Linked DNA regions of Homo sapiens. The protein of the gene in region 2 purifies or fractionates together with the protein of the main gene of each other region. This does not show direct contact. Each region holds a gene or a part of one and is shown on either strand. Other genes may lie near its edges.

What was found.
Region 1: the proteins of HIP1R (region 2) and MCCC1 fractionate together in Homo sapiens (co-fractionation; one large-scale study listed by BioGRID). This does not show direct contact.
Region 3: the proteins of HIP1R (region 2) and MTMR6 fractionate together in Homo sapiens (co-fractionation; one large-scale study listed by BioGRID). This does not show direct contact.

The regions. Positions count from the first base shown.
Region 1 is NC_000003.12:183,016,218-183,020,560, reverse strand, and holds part of MCCC1 (methylcrotonoyl-CoA carboxylase subunit alpha, mitochondrial isoform 1 precursor), read left to right. Parts: intron 1-323; coding exon 324-431; intron 432-3,223; coding exon 3,224-3,295; intron 3,296-4,343.
Region 2 is NC_000012.12:122,837,743-122,843,196, forward strand, and holds part of HIP1R (huntingtin-interacting protein 1-related protein), read left to right. Parts: intron 1-5,454. UniProt on the Homo sapiens protein: Component of clathrin-coated pits and vesicles, that may link the endocytic machinery to the actin cytoskeleton. Binds 3-phosphoinositides (via ENTH domain).
Region 3 is NC_000013.11:25,252,099-25,257,552, reverse strand, and holds part of MTMR6 (phosphatidylinositol-3,5-bisphosphate 3-phosphatase MTMR6), read left to right. Parts: intron 1-231; coding exon 232-357; intron 358-2,480; coding exon of another isoform or gene 2,481-2,531; exon of another isoform or gene 2,532-3,104; intron 3,105-3,118; coding exon 3,119-3,168; intron 3,169-3,588; coding exon 3,589-3,789; intron 3,790-5,454. UniProt on the Homo sapiens protein: Lipid phosphatase that specifically dephosphorylates the D-3 position of phosphatidylinositol 3-phosphate and phosphatidylinositol 3,5-bisphosphate, generating phosphatidylinositol and phosphatidylinositol 5-phosphate.

The DNA of each region.
Region 1 (4,343 bases), on a different chromosome or scaffold from region 2:
CTCCCAGGCTCAAGTGAGCCTCCTGCCTCAGTTCCCAAGTAGCTGGGACTATAGGCGCGTACCACTACACTGGGCTGATTTTTGTATTTTTTGTAGAGATGAGGTTTCGCTATATTGCCCAGGCTGGTCTTGAACTCCTGGGCTCAAGCCATCTGCCTACCTCAGCCTCCCAAAGTGCTGGGTTTACAATCGTGAGCCACTGGGCCTGGCCATGATGACTAATATTTAACAAATTGCTGGGAAACAATTATTACCTCAGGTATATTAGTAAAAATATAGTGATAGGATGTTGATTCGGTTTTCAGTTTGTTTTCTGTTTCTAGGAAGGAAGTATTGAGATTGACATTCCAGTCCCCAAATACTTATCTTCTGTGAGCTCACAAGAAACTCAGGGCGGCCCCTTAGCTCCTATGACTGGAACCATTGAAAAGGTAATCACATGACATCTGTAGAATGATGTTCAGTAAGTTTTAATACGTGGCTTTGTTAAACTTGTCATTTATGTCCTTTTCCCTTTCTAAACCTTGCTCATTGGAAAGCATCCACTTCACAAAAACAAGAGGATCTATTACAGATTCAAATTGTTTATTACAGTCCTCACTGAAAATACCCATTTACCTAATTTATGAAAAAGACTGCTGTTTTTGAAGGCAGGCATTTGCATCAAAGTACAAATAATCTAAATTGTCTTTTTATGATTAAAACTGAGCATTCATTAAGCATTATTCAAAAAAGCTGGTTTTGAATGTTAAATTTAATAGCAGCAAATTTTTCATGAAATAATGACATTTTCTTTTAGTGTACGTAGTTGCATCTGCGTTAATGTAAAAGGCTGGTATTGGTGAAGAACAGTACGGTTTGGTGTTGAATGCAGTATATAATTCACAGTTGCAGTCCATACTGTCTGAGTCAGTTCAGGCTGCTAGAACAGAATACCATAGACTGGGTGGCTTTTAAACAATAGAAATTTATTTCTCACGATTCTAGAGGCTGGGAAATCCATCAAATCACCAGCAGATTAAGTGTCTGGTGAGAGTCTACTTACCGATTTCATAAACAGCCATTTTTTCTCTGTGTCCTCACGTGGTGGAAGGGACAAGGGACCTCTCTTCAGGCCTCTTTCATAAGGGCACTAATCTCTTTCATGAGGCCAGATCCCTCATGACCTAATCACCTGCTAAAGGCCCCACCTCCAAATACCATCATCCTGGAGGTCAGGATTTTAACAAATGAATTCTGGAGGGATATAGACATTTAGACCCTAGCACATACTGATATAACATCAAATGGTGATAGATCAGTATCCGTAGTCTCCTTTTATATACTTGAATACAGTAGAGTCTCCTCAAATACACTTAAATCATAAAAACTCAACTGTATATGCTTGGAACAAAAAAAGAAGAAGAAGAAAATAACTACTTAAATAGTGTGGGTGATTTCAGCCACTATTCTCGTTTGGAAATATTTACCCCAAGTGGGTATGAGCTAGGAGACCTGGATCTGCCTTTAGCTCATTTGATTTCAGTTCCCACAGGCCTCTCATAGTGCAGGCATCTCTGCACAACTCTGTTAGTCTCCCACTTAGTAGCCATGTTAACCAAAACGAAAGTGAGACCATATAGGATCTATGAGTCCATTTATATGTATACAAAAGAAAATAGAAATCTCTTTCTGGGGTTGCTAATAAGTTTGATTCTGTTGCATGAAGATTGTCTTCACATTTACTACACAGGGCTCTGAAGACTTCAAACACACTTACTATACTTAGCCCTAGACAACCCCAAAACAAGAAAACCAGTCAAGACCCTCATCCCTCTTCCCTCTCTGGGGAAGACATTTAAGTATATTAGTCCTTCCCTACTGGCAATGTGTCTTGTTTCTACATTCTTGAAAAAAATGAAAGGATTTCAAAATACATGGAGTATATTCATGTGATTCAAGTAAAACTAAGTGGTTTTGTGGGTGGGGACAGGGGACTAAGCAGTGCTACCCATGGACGACAGTGCCAGCAATGCCAGATTGACCTGTAGGGCTCTCATTTGACTAGTGCATTTGGGCTGTAGGCCTCTGATTTGACCAGTGCATTTGACCTGTAGGCCTCTGATTTGACCAGTACATTTGGGCTGTAGGCCTCTGATTTGACCAGTGCATTTGACCTGTAGGCCTCTGATTTGACCAGTGCATTTGGGCTGTAGGCCTCTGATTTGACCAGTGCATTTGACCTGTAGGCCTCTGATTTGACCAGTACATTTGGGCTGTAGGCCTCTGATTTGACCAGTACATTTGACCTGTAGGCCTCTGATTTGACCAGTGCATTTGGGCTGTAGGCCTCTGATTTGACCAGTGCATTTGACCTGTAGGCCTCTGATTTGACCAGTGCATTTGGGCTGTAGGCCTCTGATTTGACCAGTGCATTTGGGCTGTAGGCCTCTGATTTGACCAGTGCATTTGACCTGTAGGCCTCTTATTTGACGAGTACATTTGGGCTGTAGGCCTCTGATTTGACCAGTGCATTTGGGCTGTAGGCCTCTGATTTGACCAGTGCATTTGACCTGTAGGCCTCTGATTTGACCAGTGCATTTGGGCTGTAGGCCTCTGATTTGACCAGTGCATTTGACCTGTAGGCCTCTGATTTGACCAGTACATTTGGGCTGTAGGCCTCTGATTTGACCAGTACATTTGACCTGTAGGCCTCTGATTTGACCAGTGCATTTGGGCTGTAGGCCTCTGATTTGACCAGTACATTTGGGCTGTAGGCCTCTGATTTGACCAGTACATTTGGGCTGTAGGCCTCTGATTTGACCAGTACATTTGGGCTGTAGGTCTCAGATTTGACCTGTACATTTGGGCTGTAAGCCTCTGATTTGACCAGTGCATTTGACCTGTAGGCCTCTGATTTGACCAGTGCATTTGGGCTGTAGGTCTCAGATTTGACCTGTATATTTGGGCTGTAGGCCTCTGATTTGACCAGTGCATTTGGCAGATGGCACAACCACATGGGCTCTACTTCTGCTCTGTAAGTTTATATACCAAATCTGTGGACCACAAAGGACCTCTGTGTTGTTTTTTTTCTTTTTATTTATGTTTTATTGTTTATATTCATGGTTTGCAACATGATGTTATGAGTATATATAGACAGTAAAATGGTTACTATAATGAAGCAGATGAACATATCTAGGACCTCTGTGTTTTCAAATATTAACCTGTCACACTGAATCTCAAGGTGTTTGTCAAAGCTGGAGACAAAGTGAAAGCGGGAGATTCCCTCATGGTTATGATCGCCATGAAGATGGAGGTAAGGAAATCATGAGTTCATTTGCTATGAGGACTTTGGGAGCAATCATACCTAATGGTTCTTTTGCCTTATTTTGTAAGTTAATACCACCTTAAATATGAAAAGCCATGATTGACGAAGCATTAATTGTAGGAAACAAAACCAAACTATCCTTCTTGTAGAAAAGAGTTTTACTTTAACTTTGTGAAATTGCACCTGTCATTTCTGATTCTGAAATTAATGAAATTATCAATAGCTTGGAATCAGGCGATAATCCAACTGAATGTTAACTGTTGGTATTTTCTAAGATAATCCAACTGAATGTTAACTGTTGGTGTTTCTGGAATGTTAACTGTTGGTATTTTCTAATGTTAACTGTTGGTATTATCTTGGTTCTAAGGCCGAACCAAGGATGCCAGGCATCAGTTTCAAAGTGAAAACCGCAATCAAATTAAATTAGCTGTTTAGGTTTTTAGATGGTTCAAATGGTAGGTCAGTGATTCTTAGCCCTGGCTGAATATTGCAGACAGTCCTCAACTTACAATGGTTCAATTAAGGATTTTTCAGCTTGACAATGGTGCAAAACCATACACGTTGAATATGCTCCTCAGCTTACATTGGATTTATCTGGACCTGACCCCATCGTAAGTCAAGGAGCATGTGTACAGTCACCTGGGGAGATTTGAAAAAATTCTTCCCCAGACCCATTGAATTGCAATCTCCAGGAGTAGAGCCCAAGGATCAATACTTTTGAAAGGCTGGGCGCAGTGGCTCATGCCTGTAATCCCAGCACTTTGGGAGGCAGAGGCAGGCGGATCATTTGAGGTCAGGAGTTCACGACCAGCTTGGCCAACATGGTGAGACCCCATCTCTATTAAAAATACAAAAATTAGCCAGGCATGGTGGTGCATGCCTGTAATCCCAGCTACTCAGGAGGCTGAGGCAGGAGAATTGCTTGAACCTGGGAGGCAGAGGTTGCAGTGAGCCGAGATCTTGCCACTGCACTCCAGCCTGGGTGACAGAGCGAGACTCCGTCTCAATTTAAAAAAACAAACAACAAGGCCAGGCG
Region 2 (5,454 bases):
GTTGGAGTTTGAGTTCATTGTCTGGGTTTGCTCGTCTTCACAGTGACTTATTGAGGAATGTAAGAATGAGGTTTTGTACGTGGTTAATATTTAATTAGATCGTTCCCAGAAATAATCAGGTGAGCCGCCAGCCAGGTCCCGTGGTGGAAAAGGACCTGGAGAGCTGAGGTTGTTACTTCCATGTCTCCTTCGGGACAGAAAATAGCACATGCAGTCCAGGGACCTGGCTTCCTTTGTAATACGCTGCTTGTCTTGCATTGACCACAGCACTGTGTGCTGTGGCAGGAGCACTAGGCTGGCTTAGAATTTAAATATTCACTAGCCTGCCAGCCTCGCTTTCCTCCCCTGGGCTCCTGGGTCAGGAGGAAGATAATTGCTTTCCTGTGAGCTTTTTTGACAGGACACACCCTGTTTGCAAATATCTGTGGGGTTAGCGCTCAGGAGTGTGAAGAGAGGCGATCATGTGCCTGCTGGGAGCTGGTGCCTGTGATTGTTGCATGGTGTGTGTGTATAATCCCAGGGGAATGTCCAGAAAACCAGTGTATGCTTTTCTTCCCTATGACTTTAGTCCCTTTGGTTAAAAAAAAAAAAAATCCTTTTCAAAATGGAGGTGACAAACTTTTATTGTCTTGTTGCTGTTTTCTGAATACAGAATACTACAAAATACAGCATGCCTGTATTTGGAACCTGAACACTGCCTGTACCATTTAAAAAGAGGGTGTGGTATCATAAAGGCACTAGTAGGTAGATAGACCTAGGCTCTAGCCTGTGTCCCTGGCAAGTTGCTTAACTTGTAAATCTATGTCCTTGTCTGAAAAAAAAACCATACAGATCGTTCCAGCTATCGTATAGGGCTGTTGTAAGGTGTAAGAGAGAGACCGTGTGGCAGCTAGAACCTGTGACTACGTTAATGACTTAGTAAGGCGTTGCAGGTGGAATTAGAGTTTTTCATCAGCTGAGATGGTCCTTGAGATGGGGCGATTCTCCTGGGCTACCAGGTGGGCTCAGTGTAATCACAAAGGTCTTTAAATGTGGACAAGGGAGGCAGGAGAGGAGGTCGGACTGAGTCCATGTGAGAAAGACTCACTGCCTGCTGCTGGGGAGGAGCCACTAGCCAAGGAGTATGGGCATCCTCCACAGCCTGGAAAAGGCGAGGAAATGGATTCTTCCCTAGAGCCTCCAGGAGGAAACACAGCCTTTCTGACACTTTGCTTTTAGTCCTGTGAGACCTGTTTTAGACTTCCGACCTCCAGAACTGCGAGTTTGTGTGATTTGTTATGGCAGCCATAAGGAACTAATACATCCAGTATGTAAACATGAAAGAGCACCTAGGGCATAGAAGGGCCTCAGCAGATACTTGGCCCAACCGTCTTTCTCCCTTCCCTTCCTCGGCTGAAAAGTTTAACATCTAGAGAAGAAAGCATCTTTGAAGCATATCATGAAGAAGGACTCAGTTAGGAGTACTGGAAATGCTAATGGTGAGTCCTGCCTTTTCCTGATCTGTGAACCTTTCTGCTTCACTGGGCCTCAGTTTCCACTGCAGGCCCACAGGATGGAGATCAAGCCCAGAAGATTCCTCTCAGGTTAGGATGAGAGAAACCCTTTACTACACTGCAAGGCCTCTGGCCACTGCTGAGTGAGCCAAGTCTGGCGGGTGAGCATTAACTGTAGACATGAAACTACCCAGGTGTAAGGGGTTCCTGTGGGGCAGGGACTGTCTAGGGCAGCAATATGTGGAAACAGTTCATAGGTCCAATTTTCCAGGTTGGTGACATACATGCTTAGCATCCCCCGTGAAACCAAAATCCTGTCAAGATTAACATTTATTGACAACTGAGGGCTTCTCAGCCCCGGCACACAGTAGAGCAGTGTTGTCCAGGAGGAACCAGAGGCAAGCCACGTGTGTACTTTTAGATTGTCTAGTAACTACTAGAAAAGTCAACAGAAACAGGTGCGATTAACTGTAATAGCATATTTTATTTAACCCAGTATATCCAAAAGCTAGCCCTTTCAACATGTAATTGCCACAAAAATTATGAATAGGAGAATTTACATTCTTTTTCTCCTACTAAATCTTTGAAATAGGTATGCACTGGACACTCACAGCTGATCTCAGTCTGGACTCACCACCTTTCCAATACTCACAGCCCGCACCGGCCAGCGGCTACCGTGCCGGACAATGCAAGTGTTAGAATCACCTGGTGGCTTTTAGAAAAGGGCAACATTTACGTGTATAGGAGTGATTTGCCCGCAGCATGGCATGGGCGTTGAGCTCGTTGTTCCTGGGCATGCGCACTGCTGTCTCGCCCCGTGACATCCTCTGCTCGGTTCCACCCCATCAGCCCACATGGTGATGCCCTCGTGGTGATGCCCGGCAGGCCGCTGACTTCCCGACCCCTGGGCTGCATATTGCCTCCCTGGCAGAGCTATTCCAGAGGCTGTTCTTGGTCCAGGTTGGGGTGGGAAGGGGCCACCCATCCTTGACCTCCCCCTCCCTGTCTCTGATGTGTTTTGATGCCCATGACACATTCCTGAGCGCCGCTTGCTGTCTTACCATTTGGCCTGTTCCTGTAGCTTTGGGGTGTGCCCCAGGAAGGTCCGAGTCATCTTTGTACCCTCTAAGAGGTGGAGAGATGCCAACTGTGGCCACGTGTGGAATGGTAGGGCAGTCAAGAGCAAGCTCCAGGTTCAGCCCCTGGCTCTGTCCCTTCACCACTCTGCCTCAGTTTCCTTATCTACAAAATGGGGGCAATAATACTACACACCTCCTGGAGTGGTTGTGAAGAAATTTACAGGTGTTCATAGTGCCTGGTGTGTAGTGAATGCCGTGTAAGTGTTGGCTGTTATGTTGTGTTCAGAAGAGCAGGCTGGGCTGAAAGAGAGAAACAAGCTCCCTGTTGAGCTCTGCCCGGTGCCCTTAGATTAGCTGTAAGCGGAGGCCTTGTGTGCTGGGGCGGTTGGGGAGAAAAGTGGATCTGCACAGAGGTTGGGGGGACTCAGGCAGGTGGGGACAGCCCTTCCCTGGAAGAGTGAGCCCAGAGGTGCCACATTATGAAGGCTCTCCAGGGTTGGGAGGATATTCTGGGGGACGACAGCCTCAGGAGGTGCAGACAAAGCCAGCAGGAGCCTTGCCTGGCAGAACTGCTCACCCTCTGAATAGGGACAGGCGCAGACGAGGCCCCTTCTCTGACCTGATCCAGAAGCCAGCCTCCCAGCCAGCGCTGCACCGGTCATTCGCGAATGAAACCCAGCTGGCCACTGGATCCCAGCAGCTTAAAGTGGAAAGCCTCTGAGTGGAGTCCAGGCCTGCTTGGCCAAGGGACAGGGATACCCAGCCGGCTAACCTGAGACGCCTTGGCTGCTCTGTTGGCAATGCCCTTACCCGCCCCCTCCCCGCCCAACTTGGTAATCTGCGATGCTAACTTGAATATCACCTCCTCTGTGCAGCCACCCGCTGCCGTCCTCCTGCCCAAGCCTCTCTGTGCTGCCCAGTCCTCATGACATTATTTGCGCTGCTTCCACATCTGCCCTGACACGCTGTGGCTGGCCCAGCAGAGCGGGAGGAAGCAGACAGACATGGGGTGGGCGCATGTGTAGACCAGGCTCGCCTGAGAAGTGGGAGTGTGTCATCTCCTTGCCGAGTTCCCTGAGCAACTGCTCAGACCTGCACCAGCCACCTACCCTGGGGTCATCAGGCAGGGCCGCGTCGTAAGTGGCTGGATGAGTGGATGCTCAGGGGCCAGTGGTCTCCCTTCTTTGATGCTGTCTTCTTGGTGAGGTCTGAAAGGCTCATGGCCATCCATTCTAGGGAATGACTGAGGCCTGGAGAAAAGTTTATTTGGGGCGAGATTGTTTTTTCTCTGGCTAAAATAAACATGATCCTCAAACTGCAGTAGGTTCATCTGCTTGGAGGTGACTCAGGCTCCTGGCTTTTGGGACAGACGGGTTTGTGGAGTGATGTCACCAGGGCCCAGGGAATGAAACTGCACGACCTGGCTGCCTGTCACTTCCAGAGCCAGCCTGGCAGAGGGGTGACGCAGGAACAGTCCTCCTACTACTGGGTGTCACCCACAAAGCCTGGGGCGGAGGTGGCAGTGGGTCAGGCGGCAACATTGTAACCAGTGTCCTGGGGAACCTGGGCTCTCATGCTCCCCTCGGGAGCTTTCCTAAACGCTGAAATGACGGAGTGGCCAGGACCAAGCAGGCCTGGGTGAGAGTGAGGGGAGATACAGGTTAAATGGAGCGGAGCAGTTGCCCCTGACTTCCTGTCTGCTGGAGCTGACCCAGCTGTCCGCCTCGCTGCTTTGCGTGTGGCCATATCCCGGCCTCCTCAGCTACAGAAACCCTGTGTTTGCTCTGTCAATGGCCTTTGAGGGGACAGACGCATTTGAATGAGATCTCTCTGTCCTTCAACCAACTCTTTGGAAATGTTAAAGCAAAATAACCTACCGCTCTGCCAGCGTCCGTCCGTGTGCCCCAGCTCTTTGAAGAACGTTCTTGTCCCTGCCAAGTGCTGCTGTTAGGTGCCACGATAATACAGCACAGGGAGGCTTACGTCTGATTCATTTCAGCGTTGATTTTAAAAATAGAAATTGTTTTATAATTACTTTTACTCTGCAGCTCTAGTGGATAAATTATTAGCTGGAGAAGGAGAGACTCAGTGCCCTGAAGTCGTCCAGTACTTGTCTTTGAAAGAGCTCTTGTCCTTCGAGTGTTCACCCTTCCATTTGCCCAGTGGGGATTTGCTGACAGCCAGATGTTGGTTTGGGCCTAGAGATACAGCAGGAAGGAAGATGTCCCTGTATTCGGGGGTTGGAGGTGGGGACAGAGTATGATCGGTGGACAGACAACTCCGGAGCCTCCTGGGCCACAGGGTGCCGCGGGGTTGGCGTGTGGGGCAGCCGCTGCCTGGAGCCTCCCAGCTCAGTTGCCTGGCTTTGCTGACAGTGCCCATTCCTGCGGTCTGTTTCCATCTGGACTCCACATCAGGCCTGGGCCAGCAGCCTCTCGGGAGCGTCCCCTGCCTCACCCTGATCTCCCCTCTTCTGAGGCAGCACTCACTGAGATGCTCGCTGGGGTGTGCCCCATGAGTCTCAGTCCAGGGACCAGTGCAGCTCTGGGCTGCTCACGAGTCAGCGGGCTCTGTCTGGCCTGATTGTTCCTGGAAGCAGGGCAGGTGTATCCTGAGGGCTTGGGCTCCCCCTGGCCACTGGACTGAGCTGAAGGCCGCAGCCCAGAGGCAGATGCCCTCGCCCCAAGGGATGGGGGTAGTGGGAAGGGCCCTTGGCTCTGCCAGCCCCAAGGCCTTCGTTAACTTGAGATTTGAACAAATCCTGATCCGGAGCCCACTCGCAATTTGGAGGCATGTTAGCAGGCCCTTGGGGAGTGGGGCTCCTGTGGTGGGACGATAAGGATGTCTATGCTGACACACTTCTCCCACACCCAGGCCTAGCC
Region 3 (5,454 bases), on a different chromosome or scaffold from region 2:
AGATGCTCCTAAATACTTTGAAGTGGCATTTTTTCTTTGTTTTTTTTTTGTTTGTTTGCTTGTGTTTTTGTTGTTACCATATTTTGTTGTGTATTTTGGAAATTATGCTGTGACATTATCATTGCAGGCATAGCACTTCCTTGTAACACAATACCTGCTAGTATGATTTTCAAGTAGAATTTATTGGTTTACCTTAAAGTACGCTAGAATGTATGTGATCTTTCTTTTCAGGCAATAACAGTTGAAAATGCAAGTGTGTTGGTGCATTGTTCCGATGGTTGGGATAGGACTTCCCAGGTTTGTTCCCTGGGTTCTCTTTTATTGGATTCCTACTACAGGACAATCAAAGGATTCATGGTAAGGATTTATTTGGTTAGACCAATGGTTCTTAAGTAGGAGTAATTTTATGTTCCTCCAGAGGACATTTGGCAATGTTGGAGACAGTTTTGCACTAAAGGAAATGATGAGACTGGCATCCGTGGGAGTGGCCAGGGATATTGCTAACTAAACATTTTATAATGCACAAAATTTTTGCTGGGGGGTCAGCCTCACAGCAAAGACTGATCTGGCCTGTAATGTCAGTACTGTCGAGGTTGAAAAACCTTGAATTAGACTTATTTCCATTTGTGCTAACACTGACAATAAGCTTTAGATTTAAATAATTTTTTTTCCTAAAATGTTGCAATGGAAATATTCAGTATTTTCTCCCTCATTTTTATCTAACAAATGTAAATAATGTAATAAAACAATGCACAAATAAGAGTACTTAAAATTAAATTCTGAAGGAAACCTTCTATTTAAAACACCTGCATTAGTAAGTGTAATAACATATTAGGCATGTTTTATATCTGAAGATAAAATTTCTAGTTGAATAGATTTTCTCCTTTGTGAAGATAAAGACCTAGTTCCTTTTTTTTGTTTCTTTGCTTTTAAAGGTATGATCAGATTTTTATTTGCTTGCTTTTAAACGTGTGAGCAGATTAACTTATGTTTTCAAAATTTACATCTTAACTCATGGTAAATTAAATGAAGAGATGTTAGAAAATTTTCATTAGTCTTGAATTATTAAATACAGTGCCATCTTAAAGCAAAGGAAGATTTAAAATCACCAGTCCCTTTTCAGCACCGCTATTTTTTGCTGCTAACATACCGACTCTGGGACAGGCCAAGCGGGAGTGCTGCTAATAAGAAAATAATGCTCAGCTTACCTTGAGAGTGTACGATAAGGAATATTTTCTTTGCCATGTTTGGCTTTAATTATTTGTTAGACATCCAAATGAAATCATGTAATAAATGGGGATGATGTGAGAGCTTCCCAGGCAATAGGAACAGTGTAAATCAAAGCATAACCTCTTTGGGTGACTGCAGGTAATGTGTGATGGATGGAGTTCAGAGTGAGTATTAGAATAGGGGGCTTGGAGGCAGAGGAATAGAGTGGGGTCAGGGCCTGAGAAAGAGAAGGCTGGAATGGGGCTTTCCCCTCTTTGGATAATGGGAGCTATTAAAGAGTTTTAAACAAGCAAACAGTAACTTGATTAGATGTGCTTTTTAAAAAGGTGGCTTGGTATCTTGAAGGCCAAAGGGAGTGGGAATGGAGGCTAGGAGGCGAGTGTAGACACTATTATGATAACTTATGAGACAAAAGTTTTTAATTTTACCAAACTAAAATAGTAACACACAAGTGAAGGGGGAGGTGATGGGTTCCAGGGATGTTTAGAGAGTAGAGTCAGTGGCTGGGCGCAGTGGCTCACGCCTGTAATCCCAGCACTTTGGGAGGCCAAGGCGGGTGGATCATGAGGTCAGGAATTCGAGACCAGCCTGGCCAATATGGTGAAACCCTGTCTCTGCTAAAAATACAAAAATTAGCCGGGCATGGTGATGTGTACCTATAATCCCAGCTACTCAGGAGGCTGAGGCAGAAGAATTACTTGAACCCAGGAGGCGGAGGTTGCAGTGAGCCAAGATTGCGCCACTGCACTCCAGCCTGGGCAACAGAGTGAGACCCTGTCTCAAAAAAAAAAGAAAGTAGAGTCAGGAAGAATTGATCATGGATTGGATGTGGGATAGAAGAGAGGAGTCTTCCTCTGGGATGATTTCCAAGTTTCTGAATTAGGTGCCAGGATGGATGGTGCTGCTCTCTGGCTCTTCACTGAGATAAGCCAAAGAATACATTTAGTGAGAAAGATATTGAGTTATGCTTTAAACATGGTTTTGTAGAAGAATGGCAGAGAGACCAGAATAAAATCTGTGGCTCCAGCCACAAGGTCACACAAAGTGGTGAAGCTGGGATTGGAGCCTGTGCCTGAGCTCCAGCGACTACATCCTCAGCCACATCAGTGTATAGCCTTCTGCGGAAAGCAGAGGCTTGAGACAAAATCAGAGAAGCTAAAACCAGCAGTTTTGACACTATGAAAATAATGTGCTTGGTGACTGTATAGTTAAGTGATAAAGTGTACTAAATACTACAAATATGTGTTTAGATTAGACTGAAAAAGTTAGAAATCTGTTTTTACAGTGGAGTGGGTAAGTAGAGAAGCTGTGGCAAGGAAAACATAAAGTCAGTCCATTCAAGAGGATAGATGTTAACACTTGGATCTGAACATGAACTCAAGTAAGATGATTTGATTAAAATAATTGGTCTTTTTATCATTAGTTTTTTTTTCTTAAAAAAAGTAGTATATAAATAATATAAAAAATGTACAAGTAAGCCAAAAGTTTTAAAATATCCACCTCAGTCTACCACCTAGAGTTATCCTTTGTTAGCAGTTTTGGTTTACATTTTTCTAGCCTTTTTCCTATGATATATCATCTTCATACATACAAAAACTTAAATGTAATACTGCTTTATAACATGTACTTTTCACTTAAAATGTAATAAATTCAACGGAAATAATTTAAGTCACGAAACTACTCTATTTCTTTTTATGCATTTTTATTCTTCTTTAACCCCACCTCGAATCAAGGTTTTGGCATTCTTTTGCCTGTGGTTTTTTGTGCTGTTTTGTTTATAAGTTAAAAGTGTACAGTAAATACTGTTTTTAAACTAATAAGATTTAATCCAGCCTAAACAAAATAATTGAAAGTAGTCAGAAAGTGAATTTTACTTTTTCTCATTAAGGTTTTAATAGAAAAGGATTGGATCTCTTTTGGACATAAATTTTCAGAGAGGTGAGTCACAGTTACACAGTCATATATTTTATAAAATTAGTAAACCAAGTTTAGAATGCCAAAATGTTTCTGTTCCTTATGAACTCACATGCGTGATGGGAGGTAAGAGTGTCATGGTTTTTACTGTATTTTACGTAAAGACATTTAATTTTTTTCTGTAATTTCTTTCAATTCTAGTACGCTTGTTAATTTTCATGACTATTTATTACCTTCCTTTTGGGCTGCATTTTATTTAGAGATGGTAACAGATCCTTTAAAGCTGTGGTTTAAAAACTCATAAATGGTTTCAATAAAAATTCTAGTTTTGCATGCTAATGTAACAGTGCTTTAGGAATATTTTTGTATGTTTAAGATTAACAATACCTGAACAATGGACCTTTCAGAGGTGTTTTTAAAAGCTTATACTTTCTGTGGGGTTAGGTGTGGCCAGTTGGATGGTGACCCAAAGGAAGTCTCACCAGTGTTTACTCAGTTCTTGGAATGTGTGTGGCATTTGACCGAACAGTTTCCACAAGCCTTTGAATTCAGTGAAGCATTTCTTCTTCAGATCCATGAGCATATTCATTCATGCCAGTTTGGAAACTTCCTTGGAAATTGTCAGAAGGAAAGAGAAGAGCTCAAGTAAGATGATTCAATTAAAAGAGTCTCCTTTTCCCCCTACTTAGCCGAGGTCTAACAAAAATCATGTTTGAAACTTAATAAAATATCTTGACAATTTGAAAGTTTATTGTAAAGATTTTATTTTTTGTATTTCTAAAGCTGAGTACCCTTCTAATATTCCCCCACCTTTCAGCTAATAGTAAAAGCACATTATAAAATGTGTTTTGAAGTGTAGCATACATACAGAAAAGTACATAGAGCGTTAAGTGTGAAGCTCAGTAAATCTTACCAAACTCACACACCTATGTAACCAGCACCCAGAATATGAAATGTTGTCAACACCCTGGAAAGTCTCCTCATGCTTCTTTTCGGTCTGCATTTATATATTTTAGAACAGAGAAATCCTTATGCTGTTTAATTTCCCAGAATGTATCAGTCGCTAGTTTTAAAGTGTAAAATATTTTAAACTGTTGGTTTGTTTTAAGATAGGATGGAGCCTTATAGCTCTCCCCACATTTCTAAACAGACAGTTCTTTGGGGAAAATAAATCTAGCTATGTTGGCTGCAGCGTGTCCGTCCTTGAGTAGGGTCTCAGAAAAGCCCTGAGACACTACTTGACCCTAGTTCATGTTATTTCCTGACCAGTCTTCGGGGATAGGGGTTTTTGCCTAAATTTTGCTGTAAGGAAGATCTCTGGAGTAGGTCTTAGAGGTCCTATGTATATTGTTTTAGGTTGGGCTTCTGAGTTTGGATTTCTTTATTGCCTCTTACAGTAGGCAATAAAGAGCACTTAACAGACTTTTGAACATCCAAGGGACATATTAAGGAAGCTAAATCTGGTAGTATTTGAAGATAGCCACATGCTCACACTCCCAACAGAGTAAACAGCAGAACTGAGAGCATGTGGAAAATTCTAAAAATGCGTAAAGGGAATAAAAAGTGAATAGAGAATGGTGGAGATGAACAATCAAAGAACATTGAGGCTTTAGCTCTATGTTACAGTGATTCAAAATAGTTTATTATAATTTGGAGCACAGAGGTAACTCTTTTCCTGGAGTACAGAGCTATTTTAGGAAAAACTATTCTTAATTAGTGCCAAACATTCTCAAAAATGGAAAGATGGAAGTAAAAGTAGATATTTCCTAGTAGTTTTTCTCCAAGACACACCTATGGGTCATCTTAGGAGTTATGGAAAAATCAGGAGATTTTCCACTTTCCCCCTGGATACCTACATTATGTTTACTTGGTAAATGTCCAGTCTAAAACCATTCTTACCTTTGCCCAGCTACTCTTAGATTTGCAAAATAATTGGCTTTTAAAATTCTTGCATAACATCCTGATTTTGCCTGTTCCCTTTTTGTACCCACTCACACTTACGTGTGCTCCTGCCCTATGATACTCGCCACTACGGCCCAGACGTGGGGTTAAGAGAAGGCCAGACAGAAAGATGCATTAGTGTCTTGTTCTATGTGTATGTTTGTGGTGATTTGAAGTAGGTGGAACAGAGACCAAGTTTTTGAAATTGTGTGAGTTGAGAGGAATCCCTTAAAATATATGGTTGTGAGAGAAAATGTTATACCTGTGTTGTGTTCAAGAAACATGACTTTATTACCTAATTATGAATGAAAAAGGAGAATAGAGATAATACAGAATTCTGAGACAAGGTTAGACTGTGAATACAAGAAA